4 linked regions of the Homo sapiens genome follow. The protein of the gene in region 4 interacts with the protein of the main gene of each other region in a biochemical or structural test. Each region holds a gene or a part of one and is shown on either strand. Other genes may lie near its edges. The genes, in order: LMO2, SIN3A, ELSPBP1 and TAL1.

What was found.
Region 1: the proteins of TAL1 (region 4) and LMO2 form a complex in vitro, tested with the Homo sapiens proteins (2 studies listed by BioGRID).
Region 2: the proteins of TAL1 (region 4) and SIN3A form a complex in vitro, tested with the Homo sapiens proteins (2 studies listed by BioGRID).
Region 3: the proteins of TAL1 (region 4) and ELSPBP1 form a complex in vitro, tested with the Homo sapiens proteins (one study listed by BioGRID).

What each region holds. Positions count from the first base shown.
Region 1 is NC_000011.10:33,881,540-33,889,243, forward strand, and holds part of LMO2 (rhombotin-2), read right to left. Parts: intron 738-7,704; exon of another isoform or gene 645-737; intron 401-644; exon of another isoform or gene 349-400; 5' UTR 285-348; exon of another isoform or gene 280-284; intron 1-279. UniProt on the Homo sapiens protein: Acts with TAL1/SCL to regulate red blood cell development. Also acts with LDB1 to maintain erythroid precursors in an immature state.
Region 2 is NC_000015.10:75,406,112-75,413,815, forward strand, and holds part of SIN3A (paired amphipathic helix protein Sin3a), read right to left. Parts: intron 6,935-7,704; coding exon 6,652-6,934; intron 5,633-6,651; coding exon 5,381-5,632; intron 4,176-5,380; coding exon 4,023-4,175; intron 3,881-4,022; coding exon 3,725-3,880; intron 1,034-3,724; coding exon 944-1,033; intron 1-943. UniProt on the Homo sapiens protein: Acts as a transcriptional repressor. Corepressor for REST. Interacts with MXI1 to repress MYC responsive genes and antagonize MYC oncogenic activities. Also interacts with MXD1-MAX heterodimers to repress transcription by tethering SIN3A to DNA.
Region 3 is NC_000019.10:47,997,443-48,005,146, reverse strand, and holds part of ELSPBP1 (epididymal sperm-binding protein 1 precursor), read right to left. Parts: intron 1-7,704.
Region 4 is NC_000001.11:47,229,063-47,237,644, reverse strand, and holds the start of TAL1 (T-cell acute lymphocytic leukemia protein 1), read left to right. Parts: upstream 1-5,419; 5' UTR 5,420-5,478; intron 5,479-5,755; exon of another isoform or gene 5,756-5,797; intron 5,798-5,929; exon of another isoform or gene 5,930-5,988; intron 5,989-6,382; exon of another isoform or gene 6,383-6,598; intron 6,599-6,603; exon of another isoform or gene 6,604-6,735; intron 6,736-7,873; exon of another isoform or gene 7,874-7,991; intron 7,992-8,293; 5' UTR 8,294-8,449; intron 8,450-8,582. UniProt on the Homo sapiens protein: Implicated in the genesis of hemopoietic malignancies. It may play an important role in hemopoietic differentiation. Serves as a positive regulator of erythroid differentiation.

The sequences.
Region 1 (7,704 bases), on a different chromosome or scaffold from region 4:
CCCTGAAAACGTCCACTTGGAGGGCAAGAGCCAAATCTAAAAAATTATTATACACACTGTCTCTCAGCTCAAATATGTATGCTCTCACTCCAAGTTCAGATCACAATTTACAATTCCGCATTTTGTAATTGTTAAGTGCAGTCTGGCTTCCCCAAAGACCTCAAGCTCATTCTGCCCAGGATTAAATCCAAGAGCCTTCTTAGCCCAGTTTCTGGCATGCAGGAAGCATACAATAATGGAAGAAATGAATGAATGAACAAATGAATTAATGAAACCCACCTTACCTGCCTCTCCACTAGCTACTGCAAGTTCAGGTTGAAAAATATCTTCTTTTCAGAGCAGTTGTTACTGAAAGAAAATGAGAGGAACCCTCTGGTTTAGACAGCTAGAAGTAGAAAGGAGAAAGAGAGAGAAAAAAAATTCTTATCTTCAGTTAGAGAAATGTTTCCACAGGTCCTTGATAAACTAGGGAAAAAGACCCCCAGGGCTTTCTGATAGCAGGCGGGTGTCCTTGATAGCGTGACGGGTGGGGCAGGCGGAACTTTGGCATCAGGGCGCAGGGATGGATTCTAACGGTTTCTTTGCTGGTTGAAGAGGCTGCTTCCTGCCGACTTCTTTTTTTTTTCTTCTTATTCTTCACTTACCAGCCCAGCTTGTGAATGTGAAGGAGTTGTCCCTTTTCCAAATGAACAGGACTGGTGTATCAGGTGGCCTTGCCATTGTATGCACCTGCCGGTCTGAGAAAGCAAGTGTTCTGTCTGTATCTGCAACTGTTTGTGTCTCACGCTTTGCAAATCTCTTATCCCTCTGAGTCTCAGAAATCCCCCATGAGTGAAAAAGGGCAGGTAGCCTGGTGCCCATTTGATAGGAGAGGAAATTAGGCCAAAGCCCTTTCAAATCTCAAACATGCCTAAACTAGAGAACTGGATGACCCTTGTTCCTTAGACTCGGGCATTCTTGCTCACAGGAATGTCTTTTGAAAATTTATTTTTCAAGAGGAAGAGCTTCATGAGGCAAAAGCCAACACGCAGACACCGTATTACCTAGCGGCATTTATTGGATTTGTCTCTTGAGTGATTCAAACAAAAGATTACGGTTATAAATAGATAGACCTAATTGTGGCAAACAATGCCTACCTTTTATTGAGCACTTATTATGTGCCAGGCATTTTAAATACTTGATCTTATTCAATCCTGATAAGAAACCTCCTGAGATCAGTAATATTATTCCAATTTTACAGAGGAGGAAAGTGAGAGAGAAATTTCAATAACTTTCCCAGGGTCATACAGCTGCATAAATGTAGGAGACGGAATTTAGACCTAGGTCTTCTGACTATGCCCTCACCTCATTCACTATGCCAGTGTTTCCCAAATTTCCTACGTTTGCATGTTAGGAATACATATTCTTAGGCCCACACCCAATCTCCCAGATCAAGGGAGAAACCTCAGAAGGCCTTTCCCTGGATACCTGATCTAAAAAATAGCCTCCTCCCCAGGCACTAACACACCGTTATTTAATTTTCATCATTATATTTGTCACTACTTGATATTTTCTTATTTGTGTATTTGCATATTGTCTTTCTTCTCCACTAAGGGATGAGTTCCATAAGTGCAGATACAAGATGTCCAACGTTTTAACTTCTAGAAACTGACCAAGGGGGATGGTACCTACGAAGTACTCAAAACATATTTATTAGATAAGTTAGTAGACACTGTCCAAAGTATTGTGTTAAGAAGAATTGTGAGTCTGGACCCAGGTTCTGGAGAGAAGATGAGAACACTGGTGTGTGTCCTGAGGTTTCAGGATGGGAAAGTGTTGGCACATAGGCCATGTATTTGCCATCCCAGAGAAAGAAACTCAGTCTCCCCAAAATTAAGAGGAAGATGACACAGAAAGTCAGTAGGAGAGCCAGGTAAAATGCAATCACTTCTTTCCAAGACCTTTATCTCTTACTTGGAAGTCAAAATGAACACATTTGTAATGGAGAAGAAATCCATGGTCAACAGTGAGGTGCTGATCAAAACTGCAATCAGATTGGATTAGGGAGAGATCAGAGTGGATGGACATCAGCATGGAAGGCTTTCTGGAGGAAGCAGAAAATCGAGTTGCCCCTTGATGAGCGATTATCTGGAAACTTCCTTTGTTGTCAGGCTTGTACTTTGAGCTATACATAGAGTGTTTTTTAGGCCCTTGCAACACCCTAATGAAGTAAGTATTGTAATCATAATTTTATGGGTGATGAAACTGAGTCACAGAAAGCCTACAGAACTTGCTCCAGCTCACAGGGCTACTAAGGACTGAGTAGGAATTAACAGCCGGTGATTTCAATAATGGTTTTCTTAACAGAGCAGGTGTGTCTGGTAGGAAACAGCCCAAGTAAGGGTCTGGGTATGGGGTCAGTTGGAGGAGCTGGAGGTGCAGTTCACAGGTAGTAATGAAGTCAGCTGGTTGCAGAATTGGACCATAACAATATTCCAGTGAAAGGAACCAGATCTGCTGTTCTCTCCCATTTAAAAGCCTTGGATGCCAAAACGCACCACACCTGACCCGGTGATCACAGGCAATTCAAAGGTGTATTACTTATGCAGGCATAGGCAGCGAGGGAAGCCACTGGTTGAGGGCCCCACTGAGAAGAGGACTCCCTGACTTCTGGGGAGGAGAAAGAGCCTGGTGCTGGGGACCTACGTAGATATAGGACAGGGGCCCACCTGTTGAATAATGCCGAGAGGAGGTAGTGGGGGAAGATTAATTTTGAGTGATCTGCTCCATTGGGGGTCAGGCTGGGGGTGGTCAATCAAAAAGAGTAAGGGTGAGTTTTCTTGCATATGATTACTAGGTGCTGCAGAGGTGAGTGGGGCTGAGTGGGTGGTGAGGGGTGGGGTGCCCTGATGGTTTCTGCCCCAGTGGGTGTTAACTATTTGGACAAATGACATTTTGCTGGGAGCAACTTTTTGCACTCAACTCAATTTCTTCAAAATTCACTCCCTAACATTTGGTTCACCATCCAAAGAGCTAATATACTTGTATATAGGCTGTACCAATTTTACATAGCCAGTGCAGTATGTAAGTCTACTTGTGGGCAGGAGGGCTCCTAAAACAAGGTCACCCCAGGCTACAGGGGACATCCAAGTCCTAGGGAGTTCAGAGTACCACATGTAGAATTTGGTTTCTGTTTGGTGGTACATCCATTGGGCTATTTGGATTACTTTGCCTTGCAATATTTATCCACGTCCAGCAGGATACACTATGCCCTCTGAGAGCATATACTCCTTCTGGGAAGCTGGCATATCATCTGGAGCTAGTCTCTTATCTGCCACCCTGGCAGTTAGGGGTTTTTGCCCTTCAGTGAAAGCTTCCAGTGCTGCTGTTTTTTGTGTTACGTGGGCTGATAGGACCTCGGATCTTTCTCTGAAGTATCTGCTAGTTTTCCTGGTGTGATCATATTGTAAGACCTTAGTCCCACTCTTCTGGCCCCAAGTCATGCTTATACCCAGGACAATGGGTAGGAAGACTGCCCATCACCTCTGACTGGGGACTGTGACCAGCAGGGTTAAATTGCAGAACAGTCAGAAAAATGTGAAGGGGGTTGTCAGACTTAGCAGTGTGCAGGTGAGTTTAGGTATTTGGGACGTCAGGAAGAAGTTATCTAGGAGTGGAACAGGTGAAGCAGGTTCCCTCTGGGGCTTCCAATCTCTTGTGTTCCTTTAATATCTGGGGTGGGCCATGACACTAGTTGTGCTGTGTGGGCCTAGGAAGATACAAGCATAGGCATGTATTTATACATTTGGATAGATGTATGATCTGGACTCATGAGCCGGGGACCAGACTGGATAACATCTGAGCCAACATAGGACAGGGCAAGACCTAGGAGCCTAGACCAGAAGTGTTTGGTGTTGGTGGTTTTGTGGTGCAAATAAGGGAGTGGCCTGCTCATGGGGGCAGATAGGAGGCCCAACATTGCATGAGGTCCAGCCACTGGGATGTGGCTTTATCTCTGTGTACATACAAGTTAGCCCGGAGATAGCCTTAGGCAGTAGAATTGCTTTGGGAGGCCCAGGAAGGGAAGTTCCAGCCACAATGGCAATGAGGTTTATTGTGCCCAATGGGGAGGAAGTGAGAGGAGAGAGTTATAACTTTGGTGGCCTGTGTGGTGGCCACCCTTTTCAGGTATGTGACAAATGCTGATTGAGGGATCCCCCAAGGGAAGCTGTTTGTGCTCCAGCAAGGGGGTCCCTTGGTAGATGATGTGGGTAACTGGTGGGCAGCCTCCAGGATGCAGTGGTTGGCTGGGCTGTGGTCATCACCTGCAATGTGGCCATTGTCTCCCTGGGCTGGTACACCTTTTTTTTTTTTGAGCCAGAGTTTCGCTCTTGTCACCTAGGCTGGAGTGCAATGGCACAATCTTGGCTCATTGCAGCCTCTGCCTCCCAGGTTCAAGCAATTCTCCTGCCTCAGCCTCCCAAGTAGCTGGGATTGCAGGTGCCCACCACCAAGCTTGGCTAATTTTTTTGTATTTTTAGTAGAGACGGGGTTTCACCATGTTGGCCAGGCTCGTCTCAAACTCCTGACTTCAGGTGATCCACCTGCCTTGGCCTCCCAAAGTGCTGGGATTACAGGCATGAGCCACCATGCCCGGCCACAACTCTTAAGTCAGATTTGGGTCATGGAGATATAGGCTGACATCTGGAAGGGTGTCACAAAGATGCACAAAGCAGAAGGGGTGCTTGAGGGCACATTTAGAAGGGGTGCTGGAGGACACCACATGCGCTGGGCTGACAATTGGGCATCATTTCTATGATAAAAGTAGTTTGTAGGGGAGGTGGGACTAAACATACAGGACCACATTCCTTTTTGTTTGTCCTGATGGCTTCTCAGGATGATGTGATATTCCTGGCCCATGGTGTTGTAGAAGAATTGTACATTCCAAACAGATAGGGATGACACTGTGGGTGCAGTATTGCCGAGGTGTCCCAGCGCTGAGTAGGGAAACTGTGTCCCAGGCCACCAGCTATATCAGGCATAGCCAGCTATAAAAAACCTAAAGGTTTCACAATAACATTTTCAGTTTTTAGACTCTGTAATAGCATTTAGGGCTGGCCTTTTATAATGACAGGGGCATCTGTATCCCACAGCTGTGAGTGGCTGTCTGTGCTTTGGCATCCGTGGTGGGGAATAGACAGCCTCAGGCATTGTTATTTCAGAACACGAATGTTGGGGGGCTCCTTTGTCTTGCTCCAAGATCCACATGGTGGTAGGTGTCAGTCCAGGGGCCAATATTCTATCCCCTGTGGAACAAGCTTAACATTAGCCAGCCTTTAAATCCATCACAACTGGTAGATGTGTTAGGGGATGGGAGAGCCTCATTTCCAGGCTGGTAGAAACATGTTGTCAGGGACTTCGCTCTTCCATCCATAGCCAGCAGGTCCCACTTATTATTTGCCATTGGTCTGACACCGATGCCTTGTGAATTGTGGATAGATTGAAAAAAGATATAGGAATGAAGGATCAGAGGAGCAATCCCACATGGGAATCCATGACTTGGAACCTGGGACTCTTGTCAGAACTAGTAAGTGTAAAATGAGGGCATTTTATTATGGATGAGGGGCCCATAGGGGCAAGTATCAAGGGAGATAAGAGCAGTAAGGAAAACTGATTTGGAAACCACAAGCCATTTTGTAGCTTTAAGAGAATATACATCATTGTGGAGTTTGCGGTAGCCTGGTGGGAGAAGTGAGCCAGTGACAGACAGGAATACATGTCCACCATGGTTAGGGCATATTGTGGGGTTGGGGAACCTGAGGGAAGGACTCATTACCGTCAATTTTCCATCATGAGTGTGGTCAGTTTCCTCAGTGATTCTGCTAGGAGTGACATATTGCACCCACCCATACTTCTCCACAGATATTCAATATGTTTGGGATAGCAGTTGATTATGGGTGGGAAACGTAAATGCAGCATCTTATTGTGGAAGGCCTTAGCTGCAAGTCTCCAGGAATGTGGATTTTTTTTTTTTTTTTTTTTTTGAGACAGGGTCTTGCTCTGTTGCTCAGGCTGGAGTGCAGTGGTGATACTGTGGTTCACTGCAGCCTTGACCTTCTGAGTTCAGGTGATCCTCCCACCTCAACCTCCCAAGCAGCTGTGTGTGCCACCACGCTTGGCTAATTTTTGTTTTGTTCTTTTGTTTTGTTTTTTGTTTGTTTGTTTGTTTGCTTTTTGTAGAGATGGGGTTTTGCCATGTTGCTCAGGCTGATCTCAAACTCCTGGGCTCAAGCCATCTGCCCGCCTTGGCCTCCCAAAGTGATGGGATTACAGGTGTGAGCCACTGCACCTAGCCAAGAATGTGGATTTAATGAGCCACTAGTCCATGGAAGACTCTTGAACAGGGGAAGGATGTGAGTGGAGTTGCATTTGGGTTGGGTTGGGGTGGGGAGAGGCTGGAGGTGAGGCTGCTGTGCTAGGAGCTTAACCACCAGTGAAGGGTTGAAGAAAGGAGGTGGGGGCAGGGGGAATGACTGAGTGGGCAATGACAGAGGCACTCACGTGACTGGCCAAGACTTGTCTGCAGGAGACCAGGGAGCTATAGCCAGGCAGCTGCAGGGCCATTGATAGAAGCTGCCATGGCTTGAGCACTTGCTCTATGCATACTCACGCAAGCGCATTCGTATATGATCTCGCTCATCCCTCACACTGAGGTCATTTGTGGGATGCAAATGGCCAGCCTTATGCTTCTGCCCCATCCACACAGGTCAGGGGCCATACTCTGTGCCACTGCCAGGGGGATCCTTTCATAACCTGCATCAGATCATTTCGCTCCTCTGCTTGAAGCTCTCCCAAGGTTTCCTTCTTGCCCAGAGTAAAAAGCCAAAGTCCTATAAGGCCCTGCATATCTGGCTCTAGCCATCTCTGTGTCCCCTTCTCTTACACTCCCTTCCTCCTTCCCTCCCTCTGCTTCATCCACACAGGACCCCTTGTCATTCTTCAAACTCTTGCTTTAGGGCCTTTGCTCTTCTCCTTCTTCCGGGAACATTCTTCCCCAGATGTGAGTTCTTCTTATTAGAAAGGTCTTCCTTCATCACCTGAGTAAGACACTAATAACCCGGGCCAGCGCATTCCATTTTCCCTCACTCTGTGTTATTTTTCTCCCTAGCACATATTGCCATCTGGCATACTATATGTGTACTTGCTTATTTGATTGGTGTCTGTCTCCCCCTCTCAAGTTTGTAAGCCCCTTTCAGGCAAGAGCAATGTTTGTTTTGTTGACGTCTACGTATCCGCAGTGCCTAGAACAGTTCCTGCTGTGTATGAGGCGCCCAGTAAACACTTGCTGAGTGGATGAATGAAGTGTGTATTATCATCCTGATTCAATGAAAGGGAAAACTGAGGCTCAGGAAGGGTACGCAACTTCTCCAGGCAGGACAGCTAGTAGTCGCCAAAGCCAGGGTTCAAGTCTGACTACAAAGCCTGTCCTATTTCCGTTAGGGTAGAATACCCTCGAGGAGTCTTGGATCTTTGTAACTGAGAAAATGGATCTTTAATAAACAGAAATGGGGAAATTGAACAGGTTTGGGTAATAGGGGAAAGATGACAAGGTCATTTGGAGCTCTGCTCTTCTTTGAGTGCAGTGGGACCTCAGAGGCTAGGGGTAGCCATTTGAGCATCTCCTGTGTACCAGGCACTGTACTGGGCACCAAGAATTTAAAAATA
Region 2 (7,704 bases), on a different chromosome or scaffold from region 4:
CCACAGATCAATCCAGGTTGATTCCTACCAGTGAGAAGCCCAACAGGTGCCAGCTACCCTGATGAAAGTTTCCTGCTAATCATCAAGTTGACTCCGAGGAGCAAATCACACTTAAGTTTATGTGGCCAAACTAAGGCACCACACAACATCATTTATGCCAATAATCTCAACTCTCGTTGCTCATTAGAATCAGCTGGGTAGCTTTGAAAACATGCAAGTAAATTAGAATTCCCCTGAATGCTATGTATGTGTGTACTACAAATAACTATCACAGCAATAAGATTACAAGTCATCGGCCAGGCGCGGTGGCTCACGCCTGTAATCCCAGCACTTTGGGAGGCCGAGGCGGGCGGATCACGAGGTCAGGAGATCGAGACCATCCTGGCTAACACGGTGAAACCCCGTCTCTACTAAAAATACAAAAAATTAGCCGGGCGAGGTGGTGGGCGCCTGTAGTCCTAGCTACTCGGGAGGCTGAGGCAGGAGAATGGCGTGAACCCCAGGAGGCGGAGCCTGCAGTGAGCCGAGATTGCGCCACTGCACTCCAGCCTGGGCGACAGCGAGACTCCGTCTCAAAAAAAAAAAGATTACAAGTCATCTTAAATCCTCAAAAATTGGTACAGGCACTGGTACTGCCTGCCACACAGACCTGGATATCTACAATGGGAGCTCCAAACATCTTTCAAGAGAAACATAATACATTTTCTAAAAATCTGTCTTCTGCCCCAAACTGCTTCATAAAACCAAAGCAAACAATGCTACCATTTTTCTAGCTATGCTAATAGTACTAGCAGACTCAAAGGACTCACAACTGGGAAACTATGTTAAAAAACAGAAAGTCCTAATTAGCCTGACACCTTTAAAACGAAACCTTCCAGGGGGATAAGATGATTTTCTTTTGGCATTAACAGGCACTATCAAATCTAACTCATCCATTACTCACCTTATCAAAAAATAACGATTCTGTTCCACCACCATGTTTGCTGGCATCTGCCATAGAAGAATCCTTCAGATTGAGCAGTTTGGGTTTCTTCTGCAAAAGAAAGATACAAACATGTGAGATTCAACGAGTGGTTTTCTCTGAATTTTATTTTTGTCTGTATTCAATGGTTTCATCACTGAAACCACTGCTGATTAATAATTTGAAACAAATGAGAGAACTCTAACCAACTCACTCCATACCCTCTAAGATTTCAACTCATATTTTCTATTTCAGTTTGCCTATTAAGTTTCTTTCTACAACAGAGGTTCAAAGATCATTCTACCCCCAAAATATTTTCTCCAGAAATGATCATGACATTACTGTGACAAACTTTTAGAATATCCTTACTTTTTCTAGGGGCCCAAAGTAACTTCATGTAGAATCTAATGCCACTGTTTTGTTCTCCTACCAGCTGAGGGAGAAAAGGCTGTTTGTAAAAAGAGCTCACAAATTGACAGAAATCAATCTTTAACCCTGAATAATATTTCAATTAAAAATTTACTTAAAAAGCATAATTTGCTGGGCATGGTGACTCATGCCTGTAATCCCAGCACTTTGGGAGGCCAAGGTGGGCAGATCATGAGGTCAAGAGATTGAGACCATCCTGGCCAACATGGTGAAACCCCGTCTCTACTAAAAATACAAAAAAATTAGCTGGGCGTGGTAGTGTGCGCCTATGGTCCCAGCTACTCAGGAGGCTGAGACAGAAGAATCGCTTGAACCCAGGAGGTGGAGGCTGCAGTGAGCCGAGATCACGCCACTGCACTCCAGCCTGGGCAACAGAGTGAGACTCCATCTCAAAAAAAAAAAAAAAAAAAAAAAAAAAAAGGCACGCCAGCAATATCCACTCAGACTAATTTAATATTGTTCTTCTAAAGGGAACCAACAGGCCATGATATAATCCTGTCAGGCAAGAAGTTACTTTTAAAATCCACCACTTACTCTCTATGAAGAAATGCACAAACTTTGTGAGAAGTAGCACATTTACCTTGGCTATCTCAGAGTATACTTTCTTAAGAGCCGCAGCCTCTGCTTACACTGCCTATGGAGAAAGTAGGCGGAGAATTTTAAGCCCCCACTATATTCTTGCCACCTGTAGGTAATCAAGAGTGGGCGGACGTAAATCCAAGCATGGAGTGTATCTACTGAGCTGATTCTTGCTACCCATATAACTAATTCTCTTTATTGAAATGAAGAAATAGAAACCATTATTATGTTCAACTTGATTTCAAAAGATTTCAAAAGAAGAAACCATGACAAACACTAATGAAAAGGATACTTCAAAAGTGTCAGTAACACCTAGTACGTCAGACCTTGTAGTCAGTCAATCACTATTCATCAGCCACCTCTTACTATTAGAAATTCCCAAACTTTTGTCATTATTTAATTCTGCAGACATATCTGTCTCTTCTATATTACATACTGCTTTGAAATTCACTGAAGAATTAAACATTCAATACATACAACTAGCCCTCTCCCTATCATAGCTGTGTTACATCAAAGAAGGGAGCAAGCTAAGTTTTCTGCAGGCAGACCATCAGTGTTAACTATAACAAAAAACATCATGTAATGGATTACTAAGAGGAGTTTAAGACTTCCCTCTGCTACAGCCCAAAGGTCCTGCCTTGGAGATTAAGATGATACACATAAGATCTGGTAACCCAACAAAGAACTTTGAGCAGGACAGGGTTCTAGACCAGAGATCTCAAAAAACACATGCACTCTACTCACAAGAGGACCTCAGAGACCACTTATTTCTGAAATAATTCTCAAGCTCAAGAATGTTCTTTCTTAACACAAGGCAGATTTAAAGCATCAAAGAAGAAGGGGCCAGGCGCGGTGGCTCACGCCTGTAATTCCAGCACTTTGGGAGGCCGAGGTGGGTGGATCACCTGAGGTCAGGAGTTCAAGACCAGCCTGGCCAACATGGCGAAACCCCATCTCTACTAAAAATGCAAAAATTAGCTGGGCGTGGTGGCACACGCCTGTAGTCCCAGTTACTCAGGAGGCTGCGGCAGGATAATTGCTTGAACCCGGGAGGCAGAGGTTGTAGTGAGCTGAGATCACACCACTGCACTCCAGCCTGGGCGACAGAGCAAGACTCCATCTCAAAAAAAAAAGAAGGGAAAAAAATTTCAAGTATTGGAAATTCTTAGTAGCAACCAAAACATTAAAGAAATGACAGCTCATTGCAAAGGAGAGATAATAAAGAACTCAGAAAAGTACAGTAATCCAAGCAATCAATGTTATTCTAATACTCTTTTGCAAAGCCAGATAAACTCTGCACTGAGTTTCTGTGACACAATACTAACTTCCTCCAAATATCTAGGACCCAACCGTTAACACACTTAAGAACACATGACTGCCGGGCACAGGTAATCCCAGCACTTTGGGAGGCCGAGGCGGGCAGATCATGAGGTCAGGAGATCGAGACCATCCTGGCTAACACGGTGAAACCCCGTCTCCACTAAAAAAAAAAAAAAATCAGCCCGGTATGGTGGCATGCGCCTGTAGTCCCAGCTACTCGGGAGGGCGAGACAGGAGAATCGCTTGAACCCGGGAGGCAGAGGTTGCAGTGAGCCGAGATCGTGCCACTGCACTCCAGCTTGGGCGACAGAGCGAGACTCGGTCTCAAAAAAACAAAAAAAAACAACAACAACAAAACACATGACCACCTCTAGAGTACCTCTCCATTAGAAATACTTGTGAGTGTCAAAATGAGCAGCTGCTGCCCATTCTCACCTTAACTGGAGGGGTGGTTCCTGTAGGATGTCTGCGGATCTGGCAGCCATTCTGGCTGGGCCTCTGCGGCTTGTTGTTCAGTTGGGGCTTCTTGACAGTGCCTCCATGATCATTTCTCACAGAATCAACCTTCTCAGCAGTTGTTTTGCTTAAAAGCTGATTAAGACACATGAATGAGATTAATGCTCTTATCAAAGCAAACAAATATCATCTAGGAAAAGTCCCCTTCTGAGCACAGTTTTCCAACTCATCTAAGATAATAATAGTAAATAGTGTAATTCTTATTAAAAAAACATACCACGGAGCTGTTGGCATCTGGTAGGAATTGTCCAAACTCTGACAACAAATCTTCCTGGTTTTTAAAGAGACGAGCAACCTGGGCATACACCTCCTGCTCTGTCAATGCTGGAGTGTAGTTTCCTCCAGCTTCCTTGGCATTTCTCTGCTCTTTCTGAGGAATTGCAAATGAAAAGAGATCATTTGGGCTACTGTTTTGAGTCACTCATCTTTGCACGCTTTCTGGAATCACTGTTATCTATTTAGGCTGCATGTAAGAAGAAAGTCTATGTTCTTAGCACCCGTTCTGACCACAGACTTTCAAGTTGAGAAAAAAAAAAAGTTGAAGATGGTGGATGACAATTCCTTTCAAAACTAGGGTAGTAAATATTTTTGAGACGGAGTTTCACTCTTGTTGCTCAGGCTGGAGTGCACTTGTCTCGGCCTCCCAAAGTACTGGGATTACAGGCGTGAGACACCATGCCCGGCCTAGGGCAATAAATATTAATGCCCAGGGGACCACTACCAACTGACAAAACCTTAGAAATTTCTCCTCCTCCTACTGTACATTAACTAGACTATATAAATCACCATCTAACTGTCCCAGATAAAACTGAGTTTCATTTCATGGGACAGTGACTAACAATCCTGACTGAGGCCGGGCACGGTGGCTCATGCCTGCAATCCCAGCACTTTGGGAGGCCATGGCGGGTGGATCACCTGAGACCAGCCTGGCCAACATGTTGAAACCCCGTCTCTACTAAAAATACAAGAAATCACTTGAACCCGGGAGGTAGAGGCTGCAGTGAGCCGACACTGCACTATTGCACTCCAGCCTAGGCAAAAAGAGCAAAACTCTGTCTCAAAAAAAAAAAAAAAAATCCTGACTGAATGTTGCAGGGCAATCAAGTCAGGCAAATAAAACTGGCTTTATAGCATGGGGGCGGTGGCTCACGCCTGCAATCCCAGCACTTTGGGAGGCCAAGGTGGGCAGATCACAAGGTCAGGAGTTCGAGACCAGCCTAGCCAACATAGTGAAATCCCATTTCTACTAACAATACAAAAAATTAGCTGGGCGTGGTGGGCGGAGCCTGTAATCCCAGCTACTAGGGAGGCTAAGGCAGGAGTATCACTTGAGCCCGGGAGGCGGAGACTGCAGTGAGCTGAGATCGTGCCACTACACTCCAGCCTGGGTGACAGTGCAAGACTCCGTCTCGAAAAACAAACAAACAAACAAACTGGCTTTAAAAACATGCATGATAGTTTCTAACTGGTTAATTTCCAGTATGAATTAATGGACACAATAATGGTTACTTGTTATTGGACTAGATGCCCTAAGAGGGTGACCTGGTTAAGACAGGCTGAATGGGCACTCCTTACCTGATATGTGTGCAAAATCTCCAGGAATGCTTTGTAGATGTCTGGTTGGCCCTGAAATCTGTTCTTGATCTTATTAACATAGTTGATGGCATGATTAAACTCCACAGGTTGATTGTTCTGCAAGGATGGGGCCGTTCCCAACGAGATTGTCACTGGTGTGTGAGGCTGGACCGGCGGAGAACGTGGGGATGCATACGGTGGAAGTGGGGGAGTCTGCTGACTGGCCGGAGTATGTGCTTGCAGTTGGGAGGGCTAGAAAGAAAAGAAATCTTTATTCTCTTCAGATGCATAGATGAGTTGATACAAGGAAAGTTCAAACTAAAGAGAAACAAGGTGTCAACGTATATCCTTTATTTACTCACTCAGGCCAGGTCATTTTAGTCCAACACAAATCATACTGGGCAGCAGTGGGAGTTGTAGGCGGTTCAAACATGCTGATACAAATATTTCAGTCTCACATTTTCTAAATAAAACCTTAAAACTGGAGCCATCTCCAATTACAGGGAAGAATTTTTCATATGCAATGTTTTAGCTTAGTAGCTCAACAAGTACACATAGAAAAAATCTCATTCTACATAGCCTTTTGATGTCAACAACAAGACAACTGTTGCAGTAGCTCCACATAAAAAAGTCTTCTACGCCAACTCTGTCCTGTAGAACTGAGATGATGGAAATGTCCTTTATTTGCACTGTCTTATACATAGCCACCAGCCACATGAGGTTACTGAGCACTTGAAAGCTAGTGCAAATGAAAAACTGAATTTAATTTAAATAGTCCTATGTGGCTAGTGGCTACTGTGTCAGACAGTGTGGTTCTAGACCAAGAACACCCCATCTTCATCACCATCACTATCACTATTCATTAGATCTTCTACTTAGCTTGATATAATCTAGTTAGTGAAATAACTTTCATAAAATAACCATGTGGGCAGCAGCACAATTTGACCAGGATAAGACGATGGTTTCTATCTGTGCTGTCAACTACTACTACACAAAGTCACCACCTGTTGGGATGTTCATGGTTTTATAAGCAGAAACTGTAAAAAGAAAGACCTTGAAAGTTGTTGCTGTGTTGATTTAAATAGATACCTAAGTAAGTGATGTGTAAATGTGAACCATGTCATAGTGAAGTTTTCATACAGCATTTTTCTATGACGAAATCTTTGTAACTTTGTTTCTCAGTATCTAAGTCTTATATAAAGGGGAAACATCAAAGGAAGGTGCTCTCTAGGGATGCATTCATATTGATGCAATATTTTCCAAGTGCTCACCTTGCTGACTTTGGCAGGTGGGGGCTGAGGAGCTGGCTGGGCAGGAGCTGGGGCTGACTGGGCTGAAGGCTGGGAAGGATGTTGGGGTGGTGGTTGAGGCTGTGGCTGGATGCCATGGGTGGGAATCTGATGAACCTGGCCAGGAGTTGTCACATTCACCATGTCATTGGTTTGCACCTCAATTTTGTAGCCAGGGGGCAAGAAGGTGTTGAATCCCATTATCAGATCGGGGTGGCCTTTGAATAGCTGGGACACACGACTAATCACTCCTGGGGTGTCGATGCTGATAAAAAACAAAAAGAAAAGTGATAAACTGTAAGCTTAACAAACACCCTGTTAAGAAAAAATTTCATGTTTTTTTTTCTTTTGAGACGGAGTCTCACTCTGTTGCCCAGGCTGGACTGCAATGGTGCAATCTTGGGGTCTTGGCTCACTGCAACCTCCACCTCCCGAGTTCAAGTGATTCTCCTGCCTCAGCCTCCCAAGTAGCTGGGATTACAGGCATGCGCCACCATACCCGGCTAATTTTTGTATTTTTAGGACAGGTGGGGTTTCACCATGTTGGCCAGGCTGGTCTCGAACTCCTGACCTCAGGTGATCCGCCCACCTTGGCCTCCCAAAGTGCTGGGATTACAGGCATGAGCCACCTCACTCAAAATTTCACTTTCTACTAGGTTTTCTCTAAACAGGAAAACAGATCATCTACGCATTTTAAAATTAACACACGAACTCTGAAATTCCAAAGCCATTTAGTTTTAGACTCAAAGATACTTGGCCACAATTTGTTTTTTTTTTTTTTGAGACAGAGTCTCATTCTGTTGCCCAGGCTGGAGTGCAGTAGCACAATCTCGGCACACTGCAGCCTCCGCCTCCTGGGTTCAAGCAATTCTCCTGCCTCAGCCTCCCAAGTAGCTGGGATTACAGGCACCCGCCACCATGCCCGGCTAATTTTTGGAATGGTCAAAATTTTTAACAGAATATATGTTCATTGTAATAATTCTACCAAGCAGATACTCAGATGATATATATAAAGCTACATATCCCAAACAAGAT
Region 3 (7,704 bases), on a different chromosome or scaffold from region 4:
ACTACAGCCTCCATCTCCCATCAAGTGATCCTCCCACCTCAGCCTCCCAAGTGGCTGGGACTACAGGCACGCATCACCACACCCAGCTAATTTTTAAACTATTATTATTGTTTGTAGAGACGAGGTCTTGCTATGTTGCCCAGGCTGGTCTCAAACTCCTGAGCCCAAGCCATCCTCCTGCGTAGCCTCCTAAGCACTGGGATTACAGGCAAGAGCCACTGTGCCCAGTATGGGCCCTTTCCTGATGCATGCTTTATGCATCCACTCAGGAATGAGTATTTATTGAGCATTTAAAAGATGTGGGGCCAGGGCTACACGATGAGTATGCAGCAGTGGGTAAAGCAGGCATAGGCCCTGCCTTCGTGGGGCTGAGAGTCAACCAAGGAGACAGATATGAAGCGAAGAAACCAGAAACAAATACAACTCTTCGCTGTGATCATTGCTGTGGACGAGTCTCAGGAACAACTAGGACAAGGTCACTTTTGATTGAGAGGTGAGGGGAGGGTGCTCTGAGAAATGACAGGTAAGCTGACACCTGGAGGAACAGATGGAGGAGGGAGACGTGAGAGGAGCTGGAGGTATGGGGGTGGGGGATACATCCAGGCAGGAGAAGCCGACGTGGAAACTGCCTGAGATGGAAAAAGCTAGATGTGCTCAAGGAGCAAGTGGGACCCGCATGGCTAAGGCCCAGGCTGGGCACAGTGGCTCATGCCTATAATCCCAGTGTTTTGGGAGGCTGAGCAGGAGGATGGCTTAAGCTTAGGAGTTTGAGACCAGCCTGGGCCACACAGTGACACCTCGTCTCTACAACAAGTGAGGAGGAGCAAGGCCACAGAGATGCATGGTGAGATGGATGGGACCGGACCCTGTAGAGCCTCCCTCAGATTCTAAATGCAACCAGAAGGCCAGGTGTGGTGGCTCATGCCTGTAATCCCAGCACCTTGGGAGGCCGAGGCGGGCAGATCATCTGAGGTCAGGAGTTCATGACCAGCCTGGTCAACATGGTAAAACCTCATCTCTACTAAAAGTACAAAAATTCCCTCCACATGATGGTGCGTGCCTGTAATTCCAGCTACTCGGGAGGCTGAGCCAGGAAAATCGCTTGAACCCAGGAGGCAGAGGTTGCTGTGAGCCGAGATCATACCACTGCACTCCAGCCTGGGCAACAGAGGAAGACTGTCTCAAAAGAATAGAATAGAATAGAATAGAATAGAATAGAATAGAATAGAATAGAATAGAATAGAATAGAATAGAATAGAAGCAACCAGAAGCCACGGGAGGGGTTAAAGTGAGGAGGAGTGGGCCGGACACGGTAGCTCATGCCTATAATTCCAGCACTTTGGGAGGATGAGGTGGGCAGATCGTCTGAGGTCAGGTGTTCGAGACCAGCCTGGCCAACATGGTGAAACTCCATCTCTACTAAAAATACAAAAAAAAAAAAAATTAGCTGGGCGTGGTAGCAGGTGCCTGTAGTCCCAGCTACTCAGGAGGCTGAGGAAGGAGAATCACTTGAACCCAGGAGGCGGAGGTTGCAGTGAGCCGAGATCGTGCCACTGCACTCCAGCCTGGGTGACAGAGCAAGACTCCATCAAAAAAAAAAAAAAAAAGAGCAGGGGTGGCATTTATTCATTCAAAATCCTCCATCACCTTTAGAATACAATCCCTAGTCCATACTGTGCCTTCCCTCAAACTCATTTCTTATCTTCCTTCCCCTCCCTCGATCTGCCTTTTAGTTGTTTCCTGCAGAAGCCACCTCAAGGCCTTTGCACTCGCTCTTCTCTTTGCCTGGGATGATCCCTTGACCCCAGCTATTTGCATGGCTTGCTTCTTTGTGCAATAAAGAGTTCTGTGCAAATTCGAAGAATTGGTAGCAACTGATGGTCTGGAAGGTTTATGACTCTGCACAGACCAAGTTATGGATATTCATAGAAAATATTTTAGGGGCCATTCAAAATAATTATTCAACTGTAAAACAAGCCCTAATAGCCAGACACCCATGTCTCGTCTGGAACATCCAGGTGAGGACCAAGTTATGCTTTGGGCACTGGCAGGTTCAGATGCTTGGAGAACCCTCTGTCCTGAGCCCCGGGGTGGTTGGGACCAGCATCCTGCCACCGCTGCTGTTTCTTGGCTGGTCGGAAAAAGGGTTGCTGTGGCTATGGAGTCAAACCACAGGAAAATATGGGGATAGTTTTTCCAATCATCAAATGAGGGAGAATAAACTCCACCTTGGGATCTTATACATGCAGCAGATGCTGGAAAGCACTGTGTAAATGTCAGAGGGGGCATACAAGCCAGATATTTTCATTACTATTTATGAAGACAGCATACAAGCCAGAATTTTTGTTTGTTTTTGAGATGAAGTCTTGCTCTGCACCCCAAGCTGGAGTGCAGTGGCACGATCTTAGCTCACTGCAACCTCCGCCTCCCCGGTTCAAGCAATTCTCTTGCCTCGGCCTCCTGAGTCACTGGGATTACAGGCACGAGCCATCACGCTCAGCTATTTTTTTGTCTTTTTAGTAGAGACACGGTTTCACCGTGTTGGCCAGGTTGGTTTTGAACTCCTGACCCCAAGTGATCTGCTTACCTGGGCCTCCCAAAGTGCTGGGATTACAGGCATGAGCCACTGCGCCCGGCCCAAGCGAGATGTTTTAATTACTATTTATGGAGATGGGGGAGAGACAAATTTTGCCACCTCCTCTAAACCCTTGACTACCTGCAGTGTCATGCTTATATTCCTGCCTGGCCCAAAACCCCAATTCCTACACCTTAATTGGTTCATTAACCTCAAGCTTTCATTTTGACCCTTCTCCTCAAGATTCAAATGAATAATTTTTGGCTTAGATGCTAAGATCCAGACAGGCAGAAGGTTATAATGCCAGAAAGAGCCTGCCCTGGAGCCCAACCACCTGGGTTTCCATGCTTTGCCTCTTACTACCTTTGTGACCCCAACAAAGTACTGAGTTTCCTGGGTCTCAGTCCTCATCCGCACAGTGGAAGGGATGGTGATCACTGTTGCTGCTACAGAATGTTAGTGTCGTTCATAGACGCTTGGTGGGTAGAATAATACCCACCCAACACAAATCTGTCCACGTCCTAATTCCTAGAGTCCACGAATATGCTAGGTTGCATGGCACAGTGGATTTTGCGGGCCAGTCATGGTAACTCATAATTGTCATCCCAGCACTTCAGGAAGCTGACGCAGGAGGATCACTCAAGCCCAGGAGTTTGAGATCAGCCTGGGCAACATAGTGAGACCTCGTATCTACAAAAAATCTTAAAATTAAAAAAAAACAGCCAGCATGGTGGCACATGCCTGCAGTCCTAGCTATTCGAGAGGCTGAGGTGGGAGGACTGGTTGAGCCCAGGAGGTCGAGATCAGCCTAGGTAACACAGTGAGACCCCTATCTACAAACAATCTTAAAAAAAAAAAGAAAGAAAACTAGCATGGTGGCACATGCCTGTAGTCCTGTCTACTCAAGAGGCTGAGGCAGGAGGATCACTTGCACCCAGGGTTTTGAGGCTGCAGTGAGCTATGATCCAGCCTGGGTGACAGAGCCAGACCCTGTCTCAAAAAAAGGAGTGTGGAAGACTTTGCAGATGTCATAAAGCTAAGGATCTTGAGATGGGAAGATGATCCGGGATTCCCCAGATGGACCCAATGTCATCACAAGGGCCCTTATAAAAGAGAGGTGGTGGGATGCCGAGGCGGGTGGATCACAAGGATCATGAGGTCAGGAGATTGAGACCATGCTGGCCAACATGGTGAAACCACGTCTCTACTACAAAAAAAAAAAAAATTAGCTGGGTGTGGTGTAATCCCAGCTACTCAGCTGTAATCCCAGCTACTCAGGAGGCTGAGGCAGGAGAATCTCTTGAACCAGGGAGTTAGAGGTTGCAGTGAGCCAAGATTGCACCACCACACTCCAGCCTGTCAACAGAGCGAGACTCTGTGTCAAAAAAAAAAAAAACAGAGAGAGAGGCAGGAGAGTCAGAAAACCAGGTGTGACAACAGAAAGCAGAGGTTAGAGTTATGCCAGGAAGAGGCCACGAGCCAAAGAATGCAGGCGACCTTTAGAAGCTGGAAGAAGCCAGGAAGCGGATTCTTCCCTACAGCCTCCAGAAGGAATGCAGCCTGGCTGGTACCCTGATCTTAGCCCCAGTGAGACTGACTCACAGAACTGTAAGAGAACAAATGTGTGTCAAGTCGGTTAGGTGTGTGGGGATTTGTTACAGCCACTGCAGAAAACTAATGCACACACAGGGGGCTGAAAACCCTGCCTGCCACATAAAACGTGCTTTGTAAATATTAATCGTTATCATTTTCATTATCTCTGTCCCATTTGAATCAGCCATCCTGGAACAGGTACGGAGCAAAGGTGTCTAACCTTAGGCTCCCTCTCAAGCCAGCTGTGTGGCTCCATGGACACACGCACAGCTCGGAGTCCTCATCTCCACAATGGAGAAATACGTAAGTGGTTGTGGCTTCGGAAAAGGGTAGCCTGTATACGAATTTCTGCTCATCCGTGTGACCTTCAGAGTGTTATGGAATGTATTTGACTCTCAGCTTTCTTTTCTATATATGAGACAACTGAAATCTATCCCGTAGGACTGTTTAATAATGAAATGAATGTAATCCCGGCACTTTGGGAGGCCGAGGAGGGCGAATCACAAGGTCATGAGTTAGAGACCAGCTTGACCAACATAGTGAAACCACGTCTCTACTAAAAATACAAAAATTAGCTGGGCGTGGTGGCACGCACTTGTAATCCCAGCTACTCAGGAGACTGAGGCAGGAGAATTGCTTGAACCCAGGAGGCAGAGGTTGCACTGAGCCAAGATCGTGCCAGTCTTGGCTCACTGCATTACAGCCTGGGCAGAGTGAGACTCCATCTATGGGGGATGGGGGAGGGGGCAGGATTTTTGGGGGGCGGCCGGGGTGGGGGAAGAATGAAATGATACAATGTAAGCAGAGTTCTTGGCACATGCTGAGTGCTCAACAAATAATCATGGTAAACATAGGCTGGGCGTGCGGGCTCAGGCCTGTAATCCCAGCACTTTGGGAGGCCAAGGTGGGAGGATCACTTGTGTTCAGGAGTTCAAGACCAGCTTGTGCAACGTAGTGAGACCCCCTCCTTCTCTACAAAATATTAAAAATTAGTTGAGCAAGATGGTGCACACCTGTAGTCCCAGCTACTCAGGAGGCTGAGGGGGAAGGATCACTTGAGCCCAGGATATTGAGGCTGCAGTGAGCTATGATTGCACCACTGCACTCCAGCCTGAATGACAGAGCGAGACCCCATTTCCTAAAAAAAAAAAAAAAATCACGTATGTGATAAATATTTGTTGTGTTCCTCCTACTATGTGGAGTTGTCGGTAGACTGGACAGGTGAAATTCCTTCTTGCATGAGGCTAATATTTTACTAGGGTGGGAAAGACAAAATACAAATGAGGTTTTCTGACCAGGGTGGTGGCTCACGCCTGTAATCCCAGCACTTTGGGAGGCCGAGGTGGGTGGATCACTTGAGGCCAGGAGTTCAAGACCAGCCTGGCCAACATGTTGAACCCCATCTCTACTAAAAATACAAAAATTAGCCAGGCGTGGTGACACATGCCTGTAATCCCAACTATTCCATAGGCTAAGGCACCAGAATTGTTTGAAGCCAGGAAGTGGAGGTTGCTGTGAGCCGAGATCACACCACTGCATTCCAGCCTGGGTGGCAGAGCGAGACTCTTTCTCAAAAAAAAAAAAAAAAAAAGAAATGAGGCTTTCAGTATGGGGTGGTGACAAGTTCCTGGAAATAGATAATGGTGATGATGGTGCAACATTGTGAATGTGCTTGTCGCCACTAAATTGTGCACTTTAAAATAGTTAAAATCATAATCTTATGTGTATTCTACCACAGTAACCAAAACCAAAATCATTTCAGAATATGAAAAGTGCAATGAAAAAAAATAATAAACAGGGGAATGTAAACAATCATGCCTGACAGATGTCTCCTTTGGTGGTCAGGGAAGGCCTCTCTGAGCAGGTGATGTTTGAACCAAAACCTAGAGTCAGCCACACACAGTGTGAGGAACAAGCATTCCAGGCACAGGGATCAGTGAGGGCAAAGCTGCTGATGTGGGAAACAATGTGACATGTTCTGACGCACAGAAGGGAGGGCCACATGGCTGGACCCTTCATTTTTCCCCTTAGGGTGGGCCTCCCGCATGCGCAGTGCCTCCTTTAGGCTTGGGAAGTGAGCATGCGCGGTGTGTTTACTGGACTTGTACACAAGCTCGTCTGAGACTTTCTTCCCTTTCCAGTGAAATGTCCCCCAAAAGGTTGGACTCTGCATTTTTTTTTTTTTTTTTTTTGAGACGGAGTCTGGCTCTGTCACCCAGGCTGGAATGCAGTGGCGCGATCTCGGCTCACTGCAAGCTCCGCCTCCCGGGTCCACGCCATTCTCCTGCCTCAGCCTCCCGCGTAGCTGGGACTACAGGCGCCCACCACCACGCTCGGCTGATTTTTTTGTATTTTTAGTAAAGACGGGGTTTCACTGTGTTAGCCAGGATGGTCTCGATCTCCTGACCTCGTGATCCGCCCGCCTCGGCCTCCCAAAGTGCTGGGATTACAGGCGTGAGCCACCGCGCCCCGGACTCTGCCATTTTGTCTCTTAATGCGCATGCCCGGGCTCATTAGCCCAATCCCTGAGATTGATTGATTGATTGATTGATTTTTTTTCTTTTTTTTGAGATGGAGTCTCACTCTGTCACTCAGGCTAGAGTGTAGTGGCACGATCTAAGCTCACTGCAACCTCTGTCCCCCGGTTCAAGCGATTCTCCTGCCTCAGCCTCCCGAGTAGCTGGTATTACAGGCGCCTGCCACTGCACCCGGCTAATTTTTGTATTTTTAGTAGAGACGGGGTTTCACCATCTTGGCCAGGCTGATCTTGAACTCCAGACCTCATGATCCACACACCTCAGCCCCCCTAAGTGCTGGGATTACAGGATTGAGCTACCGCGCCCAGGCCATCCTTGAGATTTTACTGGAAGCTGCTGACTACCAATTTTGGAGTAAGTGCAGAGGAACGAAAAGATGGTGACACTAGCAAACCTAGGTCAGAGCCTTGTAGTTCTCAGCAAGACACTGCATCTGTGTTCCCCATGCACATACATGTACAGAGTGTTTTCCTGAGCGGGCATGTGAGAAGCCACTGATATCAATCACCTCTGGAAGTGGGAACCAGGGGTAAATAGGAGACTTCTTTCCAATTAAGTTTTTATCACAGATGTGTGACTTATGTCTTTAAAAACAATTTAATTATGTATATACCTAGAAGAGAAGAGTTGCAATATTCCCAACACAAAGAAATGATAAATGTTGAAAGTAATGGATATCCTAAATACCCTGATTTGATCATTACTGTCTGCATGTATCAAAATATCACATCAGTGGCTCACACCTGTAATCCCAGCACTTTGGGAGGCTGAGGTGGGAGGATCACTTGAGACCAGGAATTTGAGACCAGCCTGGACAACAGAGTGGGACACCATGTCTATTAAATAAATAAATAAGGAAAAGAAAAAAAATCACGCGTACCTCAATAAATATATACAATTGTTGTGTATCAATAAAACATTTTAGAAACAGTAATTATACATGTATATGCACATACATAATGTGTATATACATATACGTGCACATGCCTGTATACATTA
Region 4 (8,582 bases):
ATGTATTAATGTGTACTCCTGGGCCAGGACTCTGTCTCAGTGAGCATCAACGACTATTTGCTAGCCAGAGAACTGGTGGCTATGCACATGTTCTGTCCTTTTCTAACAGCTCTGGGAATAAAATCATTGATGGCAGAGCTATTGGGGTTCTCTGCTCATGAGGACAGTTAAGTTTAGACACTATCTCTTCTGTAAGTCTGGAAAGCAACTTCGGTCTTCTGTATGCTTTGGTCTTCCGCATGGGTTAGGGAAAGGGAAATGGCTTTGAAACATTAAAAAGCACAGGCCGGGGGCGGTGGCTCATGCCTGTAATCCCAGCACTTTGGGAGGCTGAGATCGGCAGATCACCTGAGGTCAGGAGTTTGAGACCAGCCTGGCTAACATGGTGAAACTTCATCTCTATTAAAAATACAAAAAAGGCCGGGTGTGGTGGCTCATGCCTGTAATCCCAGCACTTTGGAAGGCCAAGGCGGGCGGATCACCTGAAGTCAGGAGTTCGAGACCAGCCTGGCCAACATGGTAAAACCCTGTCTCTACTAAAAATATAAGTAATTAGCTGGGCGTGGTGATGCATGCCTGTAGTCCCAGCTTCTTGGGAGGCTGAGGCACAAGAATTGCTTGAACTCATGAGGCAGAGGTTGTGGTGAGCCAAAATTGTGCCATTGCACTCCAGCCTGGGTGACAGAGGGAGACTCTGTCTCAAAAAAAAAAAAAAAAAAAAATTAGCTGGGTGTGGCGGCATGCACCTGTAGTCCCAGCTACTCAGGAGGCTGAGGCAGGAGAATTGCTTGAACCCAGGAGGCAGAGGTTGCAGTGAGCCGAGATCACACCATTGTATTCCAGCCTGGGAGACAGAGTGAAACTCTGTCTCAAAAAAAAAAAAAAGCACGGTGTTTTCTTAACACAATTTTACTTTGGCCTTTGCTACAGATGGGGGTTGTAAACTAGAGAAGTGGTTCTCAAATTTTGTGTGTGTGTCAGAAATCATCAGGAAGGCTTGTGAAAACAAATTGCTGGGCCTCACCCTCAGAGTAGTAGTAGTAGGCCTGGGGTGAGGCCTGAGAATTTGCTTTTCTAACAGGTTCCTCGGTGATGCTGACCATCCACTTTGAGAGCCACTGAGAGTGAAGTTCCTTCCATCCCTGAGAATTCTGACAGCAGCGTTGGGGTTTGGAAGCACAGACGTGACTCCCAAGCTCGGAATTCTTGAGGCCTGCTTACTGATGGGGTAGGGGTTCTTCCAGGGCAAGAGACAGAGGCAAAAATGGAGAGAATAGTCCTTTGAAAGTGGAAGAGGGAAATAATGACATTTCCTCAAATTGAAATTTTCCTCATTAAAAATAATCCTTATATAAACAGTATTATGTATGGAAAATGAGCACCTCTCTTCTGCAAATAAGGAAAGTGAACCTCAGAGATTAAGTAATTTGCCTGGTATCATACAGCTGGCAACTAGGGGAGCAGGGATAGGAGCTCAGGTCTGCCTGACCATTGTGCTTGCTTTGCTGCTTTCGAAGCACTGTGGCCTGAAGCCAGACTGCCCTAGGTGTGAATTTTGCCTCCACCACTTACCTGCTGGGTGTTCTCTGCAAGTTGCTCAACCTCTCTGTGCTACCTACAAAATGGAGTAGTCCCTACTTCATTAGGTTCTTGCAAGGATTAACTGAATTAATACTTACAAAGTGCCTAGGACAGTACTTGTCACACAGTAACTGCAGTGTAGATTTGTTAAAAATAAACTCGGCTGCTCATCAGAGTGCATGCATGGCATCTTTCCGGAGAAGAAGCTCGGGGGAGAAGCTCAGAGATAGTCCAGTACTCAGAGAGGGCAGGCAGAAACACTTGAAAAATGGTAAGAGGCTTGGCTTTGGGGTTTAGGGAGAACCCAACCTTTGGTGGTGGGGAACAACGGCCTCAGGGCCAGAGCCTAGCTAGCCTGTTCTTGTCCCCTGCTCTTGCTGCCCCAGTTCCAGACTCCAGACTTACCAGTCTGGGTCTCAACCTCCCCTCCCTCCTCGCCACCCCCACCCCAGGCGCTCCGGGTTTCCTGCCCGACTGGGGCCTCCGTTTGGGGCGGGTGGAGGAGGGGTGGCATTTCCTGGCTGGCCCCGGCCTGTCACTCTCTCGTGGACGCTCGGACAACTCGCTGACCGACAGGCACCAGATGCTATTTCAGGCAGCGCCCCGCTTAGCGCACAGCTTCCGTTTTTCCACTGACCATCGGAAACAGGGGAGGGGGCAGATGTAGACGTCATGAGACCCCAGCCCCTGGCAGGGCTTTGGTGGATGAGGTCGGGAGTGGCTGCCTGACTGTCAGAATCTGGAGCTTGGCAGAGAACAAATGTGTGGAATTGGAGGGTTGGTGAACGTCACCTCCTCGCTCCACAGACAGAGGCCTGGGCACACCCTCTGCCACAGGGCTGAGAAACGCCTTTCCACCTGTCCATATTCCTTCACCACAGGAAAGGACACTTTCCTTGGAGGTGCTGGCTGGGGACATTTAATGCCCTGTAAAATAATCCAACAGTCTGCAGGTGTCTCAAAGGCATCTAAACTTAAGGAGTTCAAAACCAAATATATAAGCCCTCCCCATGTCCCCTCAGCCTCCAGGTTCCCCATCTCCAGGAATAACCACCACTAGCTCTGCAGGACAGCCAGAAACCCAGGGGTTTTCCTGGATTCCTTCCTCTCCCTCATCCCCCCAAACCCAATTCTTTTTTTGTTTGTTTGTTTGAGACAGAGTCTCGCTCTGTCGCCAGGCTGGAGTGCAGTGTCGCGATCTCGGCTCACTGCAACCTCTGCCTCCTGGGTTCAGGTGATTCTCCTGCCTCAGCCTCCTGAGTAGCTGAGACTACAGGCGTGCGCTGCCACACCCAGCTAATTTTTGTATTTTTAGTGGAGACAGGGTTTCATCATGTTGGCCAGGATGGTCTCGATCTCTTGACCTCGTGACCCGCCTGCCTGGGCCTCCCAAAGTGCTGGGATTAGAGGCATGAGCCACCATGCCTGGCCCAAATCCAATTATTATAAACCCAGTTTTATACCCCAAATACATGTCATCTTCACTTGCCTCTTGTCATCTCTTCTGCCAGCACAGTGGTCCAAGCTCTAATCCGCTTCCCCTAACCACTGCATTGGCTCCACAACTGGCCTCCCAGAGTCCTTCCCCCTCCACACTTCATCCAAAGAACTTTCTAGAAATGCAAATCTTATTCTATACAAGGTACCACCCCCACCTTCAAACCAAACAAACAAAAAAATGTCAAAAAATCTTTTAACTTGTCCACAAGCATGCTCCAGCCATACTGGACACTTTTCTATTCTTTTCACGAACCTACCACCCTTCTGTTCTAGCCCTTGGTCCAGCTGTTTCCTCAGCCCACCTGGAAGGTTCTGGATACTGATGCTTCTCCCCACCCCCCTTCTTCGCACCCCCAAATTTCACTCTTAGATCTCAGTCCAGGCCTCATTTTCTCAGAGAAGCAGTCCCCACCTGGGCTCTCCCATATGGGAATGGCTAGCCTGTTTTTACAGTGGCTCAGAGACATGAAATCACTTCTCTAAGGGTCCCACAGCCCAGGAATGGCAGAGTTGTGTTTCAGACTCAGAATTATATGACTCTCATTTTCTAATAAGTGATGGAGCCAAGCAAAGGCCTTATGGTAGGGGGGAACTAGACTTTTTCTTAGGATGTGGGATTCTGTGAGAGTTATCTGTATCCCCATGACAGCCTGACTTCCTTCAGAGAGCACAGGAGGAACAGAGGGGACAGGCGGCACTGAATTAACTGTATCTTCTCAGAGGGTCAACCTGATGACCAAGGAGAAGCCAGATCCCAGACTGGGGCCATGCTCTCTGCTCAGTCTTTGACTGGGACTCAGTTTGTTACCAGAGTAGGGGTTTTCCCCCAGTTCTCAGGCTCCAAAAAAAGCTCAAAAGCAGAGACACTAGAAGGACAAATCAGCCTGGCATGGAAAGTAGAGTTGTGGACTGGGAATTGGACACCAAAGTTTGGGTCCTGGCTTTTCCTTTGGGTTACTGTAAGTTTTGGCTAAGTCACATCTCTCTGTGTCTTAATTTCTTTCTCTATGATGATAACCAGAACTCCCATGCAAGTGCATATGATGTTTTCCTGGGCTGTGGACTGAGTGACGTTCCATACATTATTATCCTCACCACCACCTTTTAAAGGTCATATAAGTTAGTTCTCATAACTTTGTGACGTCGACATTATCTCCCCATTTTACAAATGAGAAAACTGAGGTTCAGAGATCAGTGACTAAAATTCGAACATGTGTTCTTTCCACTCCACCATGAAAGAATGAACCCAGAGACCCTCCGTGGGCTGAGCGCATCATCCAGCTGGCACTGAACTCAGATTTCTACCCCACAGTAAAGACCCTGGTCTCTGCAATGAGTTGAGCCCAGGTCCCTTTCCCTGGCTAGGTTTTGGCTGCCCCTCTTCATCAGCTGAGCCGCAGAGAAGACTCCGTGTCAAATTTCCTTCCAAGGCAGACTCCACCAAGCACTAGCTATGTATCATTCGAAAAGTTACTTTGACTTTCTGTGCCTCAGTTTTCTCTTCTGTAAATTAAGGATCCAGCTTCTCAGGACTGTTTGTGAAGAGTAGATTAGTATTTGCAGAATGCCTAGAATAGTGTTACAGTCGCTAGATTAAACTTTTTTTTTTTTTTTAAATACCATGTGGGGAGCAGTGTTCCTGGGCTCTGGGCTCAGCCTGAAACCTAGCAGAATAGGCATTTTATGTCCCTATTGACAGGGGTTCTGCCAGGCCGCCGTAGAGCCCATGGATTTGAGTTACCGGCTCTATTTTAGAAGGGGGTGAAGAGGTAGGGAAGGGCTGGGGAGCTTTCTGGGATAGGGAGACTGCCCATTGAAATCTGGGTGTCTGGGACACTGGAGGAAGAATAAGAAAGAAGCCCTGGGAGGTGACGATTTTGGTATCATGGTGGTCTTCAGAGGTAGGGACAGAGTGCTGGGGTGAGAGTCGCTGAAGAAAGGTGTCTGAAAGGTTAAGGGACTGAGGTTGTGGGAAGCTGGGGTTCCTGAGAGGCCTTGGGATTAGAGATGGGGGCTGGATCTGCTGGGTCCTAGACAGCGCGTCCAACGCTCCCCGCAGCGCGTTCCGGAGCCGGTCCTAGCGCCGCTCAACCAGTCCCCACTCCCTCCGGTGAAATTGCCAAATTAAAATGAATCATTTGGCCCATAATGGCCGAGGCGCTTATCGGGGGCGGGCGGACCCGCGGCAGTGCCTTATCTCTGCGGCGCACACGGCCCCGGCGCGCCTCGGCCCATGCTAACGAGGCCTGGAACGTGAGTGGGATTACAGCGCGTCGGTGGAGGGGCCGGGCGGGCGCGGGGCGGGCGGGGGAGCGGGGGCCGCGGGAGGGGCCGGGCCGCCGCCGCTCAGGACCGGGCCTCAAAATGGCCACACGCGTACCCCCGTAGCGGAAAAACGTGAGCATTCTGGCCTTTTTCTAGGGGAAAAGCAACCCGCGGCCTCCCACCGAATTCTTCATCAATTTCCTCCTCTTTTTCCCCACGTCCGCAAAAGAGGTCTTCGCTCCCTTTCCCTCGGTTCCTTTCGATGGCCGGGGGGGGCGGTGGGGGGGCATTTTCCACGGACGCCCCCGCCCCGGCTGCCGCCGCCCCTCCCGCCTCGGAGACTCTCTTCCTTCCTTCCCCCTTTTCCTTACGCAATATACAGAAATGCGCGAGGCTGTGGTTGGTTTTCATTTCTTCTTCGTGGTTGTGTGCATGCGGTGGGATTGTGAGAGTGCGTTCATGAGAACTGTGGGCGGCGTTGGCTGCTTCTAAGTGTGGTCTTCTTGGCGACAGGCTCTGTGTCCGAGTGTGGTGTGCCTGCGCGGTTGGGGTGTGTAGATGTGGACCCTTCGAGGCCCTTCTGCGTTTTCTTCGTTGCGTACGATTGTGCTCCGTTGGTGTTCTCAGCAGGGATCTGATTCTGTGTGTGGGGGTGTGTGGCCCCTGCGACTGTGTTTGGGTGGTGTCGTCGTTATGTCGGGCGTGTGTGATCCCGACTGTGCTGGATTGTGTGTCCGTGAGCCGCTGCGTTTGACTGATTTCGTTGTGTCCTGTTGGGCAGTGTGCGGGGCTGACCAAGTCGGCTTCTGGGGCAGTGCTAGGTGGTGTTTGTTTGCTGCCCTTCTGTGGGGCTGGACCCTGTGTGGTCCTGTCCGCACTGAGTTGTATGCCTGTGTGCCTGTGTCCTTTAGAGGTGCGTTTGCAAATCGCTGGGGGCGGGAGTGGGGGGAGGGCGAGCGAGAGATCGAGGCGCTGGTGGGGGCGGCGGCATGGGGGCGGGGAGCGGGATTTCACATTTTATTCCAAATTATGATGTATTCGGGAGCCAGTTGTTGGCTTGGGTGGGCGGACAGCGCCCGGTCGGCGGCTGCTCTGCCCGGAGGCCCGCCTGTGCCTAGGTGTTTGAGGGGTTCGTTGGTGAGTGGGAGGCTCCTCCAGGCTTGAAGCTGAGCAGCGCTCGCCGAGGCCGGCGCCTTCGAGCCGGTAGCTGCGGGCTTCGGTTCCCGCTGCACTCCGGCTTCATCCATTTCTGGTCAGTTTCGTGGGTGCGGCCGCCGGGCTCCAAGGGAGAGGCCCCGAAAGGACAATGGGCACATTCACCAGGCCTCGAGCCTCGGGTGGGGACATTCGGGATCACCTCCTGGGAAGATTTTCCCGCCCCCTCTTCGGGTGAGCGACGTTGCCGCTTGGGTCTGATACCCGTCGCATCCGAGACCGAGGCCGAATCCGGGCTCTGGGAGGGACCGGGTTAGTGGGGCCCTAGCTCGGGTTGAAAGAATTTTGTTTTGTCAATTATTGTAATTGCTAATGCCATCACCATCACAATCGTCATCATTAACATCTATTTTAATTAAAATAATCATCCCAGAGCGCAGCAGTTTGTCCCTTTTGGCTCCTTTGGCGGGAGAACAAAGCAGCGGGTTTTTTTCCGCTACAGCCGTTTTCTAAGTTGCTGGGTTTGAGGTAGGAAGAGAAAATGGAGAGAGGCACGGACACAGAGACTTGGTCATAAGGCAAACATTAACCCCCAGCGAACACGCAACATTAACCCCCCGCGAACACGCCGGGAATGGATGGATTCCCCTCTTCTTTCCTCCCCTCCCCTCTTTTGGATTAGAAGAGGAGAAAGAAAATCTTCCGCATTGTATTGCAATCCAGGGAAGAATTATTCCTATATGTCCACCAAAGCCGCGGCAAATAGAAGGAGGCCTTCGCAGTTAATCCAAGACTTCGATGTGTGATCATAAGCCTGACGATTTAGGCAAAACAAATTAAACAAAATCCACTAGGAAAAAATAAAAGCAAGCTCAATCCTGCTACATCCTTGAAAGTAGTGTCGGGTTTGTTTTTACCTCCTTTCCTTTTACCTTGTTTATTGCTGTAACAAATCATTAGAATTCTCCCTTACTCTGTCTAAACCCCGAAAAATCGAAAATCATTTCGTAGGGGTGGTGGAGGGGAAGGTGGGGGACTTTTCCCCTTTGTTTCTTTCTTTCCCCCTTTGTTGGTCTTTATTTCCTTTTCTTTTTCTGTCTCTCTCTTCCTCTCTCTTTCTTCTTTCTCTTAATCAGTAGGGAGACGAGAAAGGACCTGAACAGATCAGATATCTCTCTCCAAGCCCCCTTCCCAACTCCATTTCTGTAGGAAAGTACAGCCCCTGGAATTGGGTTCTGGTTTCGCTTTGGGCTGGAGGTGGGTGGATGGGGGTCAGAGAGAGAATGAGGTGGGGGGGACTTCAAGGTTCTGTCCCACCGACCAGAGTCTGAAGACTATTCGCCTTTCCCAACACGGACCTCCGCCCATCCAGGCCCGGGACTATCCCTTCGCGGTGTAGCGGCAGCCGGAGACCTGGCTGAGGAGGCAACCGCGTAGACACCTCCCTGCTTAGAAAACAAACACTGAACCAGACCGATCCCAGTTGGAGGGTTCGAAAATGTTCCAGACAGCCTGTCGGGAGGGGTTGTTGTTGCTGTTGGACTAAATAGCTATTCCTGATTGGTCATGTATAGGGTTTTTTAAGGCGGGTGGGGGGAGGAGGGGGTAGAGGAAAGGCTCCAAACACCTGCAGGTTGGGGGCGGAAAGCTGTTTGCGATTCCCTGGACTGGTTGGTCGGGGACAGGAGGTAATTCCCAGCCATTGACCCCCATTTCTCTCTCTCCCTCCCTCTTGCCCTGCCTCTTTCTCTCCACCCCTATCTTTCCTGGAAACTCGCTTTGGGCGCGGCAGATCGCCCAGGACCACACCGCAGCGTAACTGCAGGCCTCTCAGCGAAAAAGGGGGAAAGCAAAGACCCGGGTGTGCATCCTCTTCCTCGGCTTCCGCCCCTTTCCGGCGGAGTGGAGATCCTATTCAGAGGGGCCGGTCTCTCTAAATATGCCCCAGGTGAGTTTTCAGGGGAATGGTGCCGGTGGAAACGGTGTCTAGGAAGGCCTTGTGTTCCGGCCTGGGGTGAGGAAGGCTCAGGACAGAGGAGAGCCCATTCTCAGATTGGGGGTGGGGGGAGGGGAGGACCAGC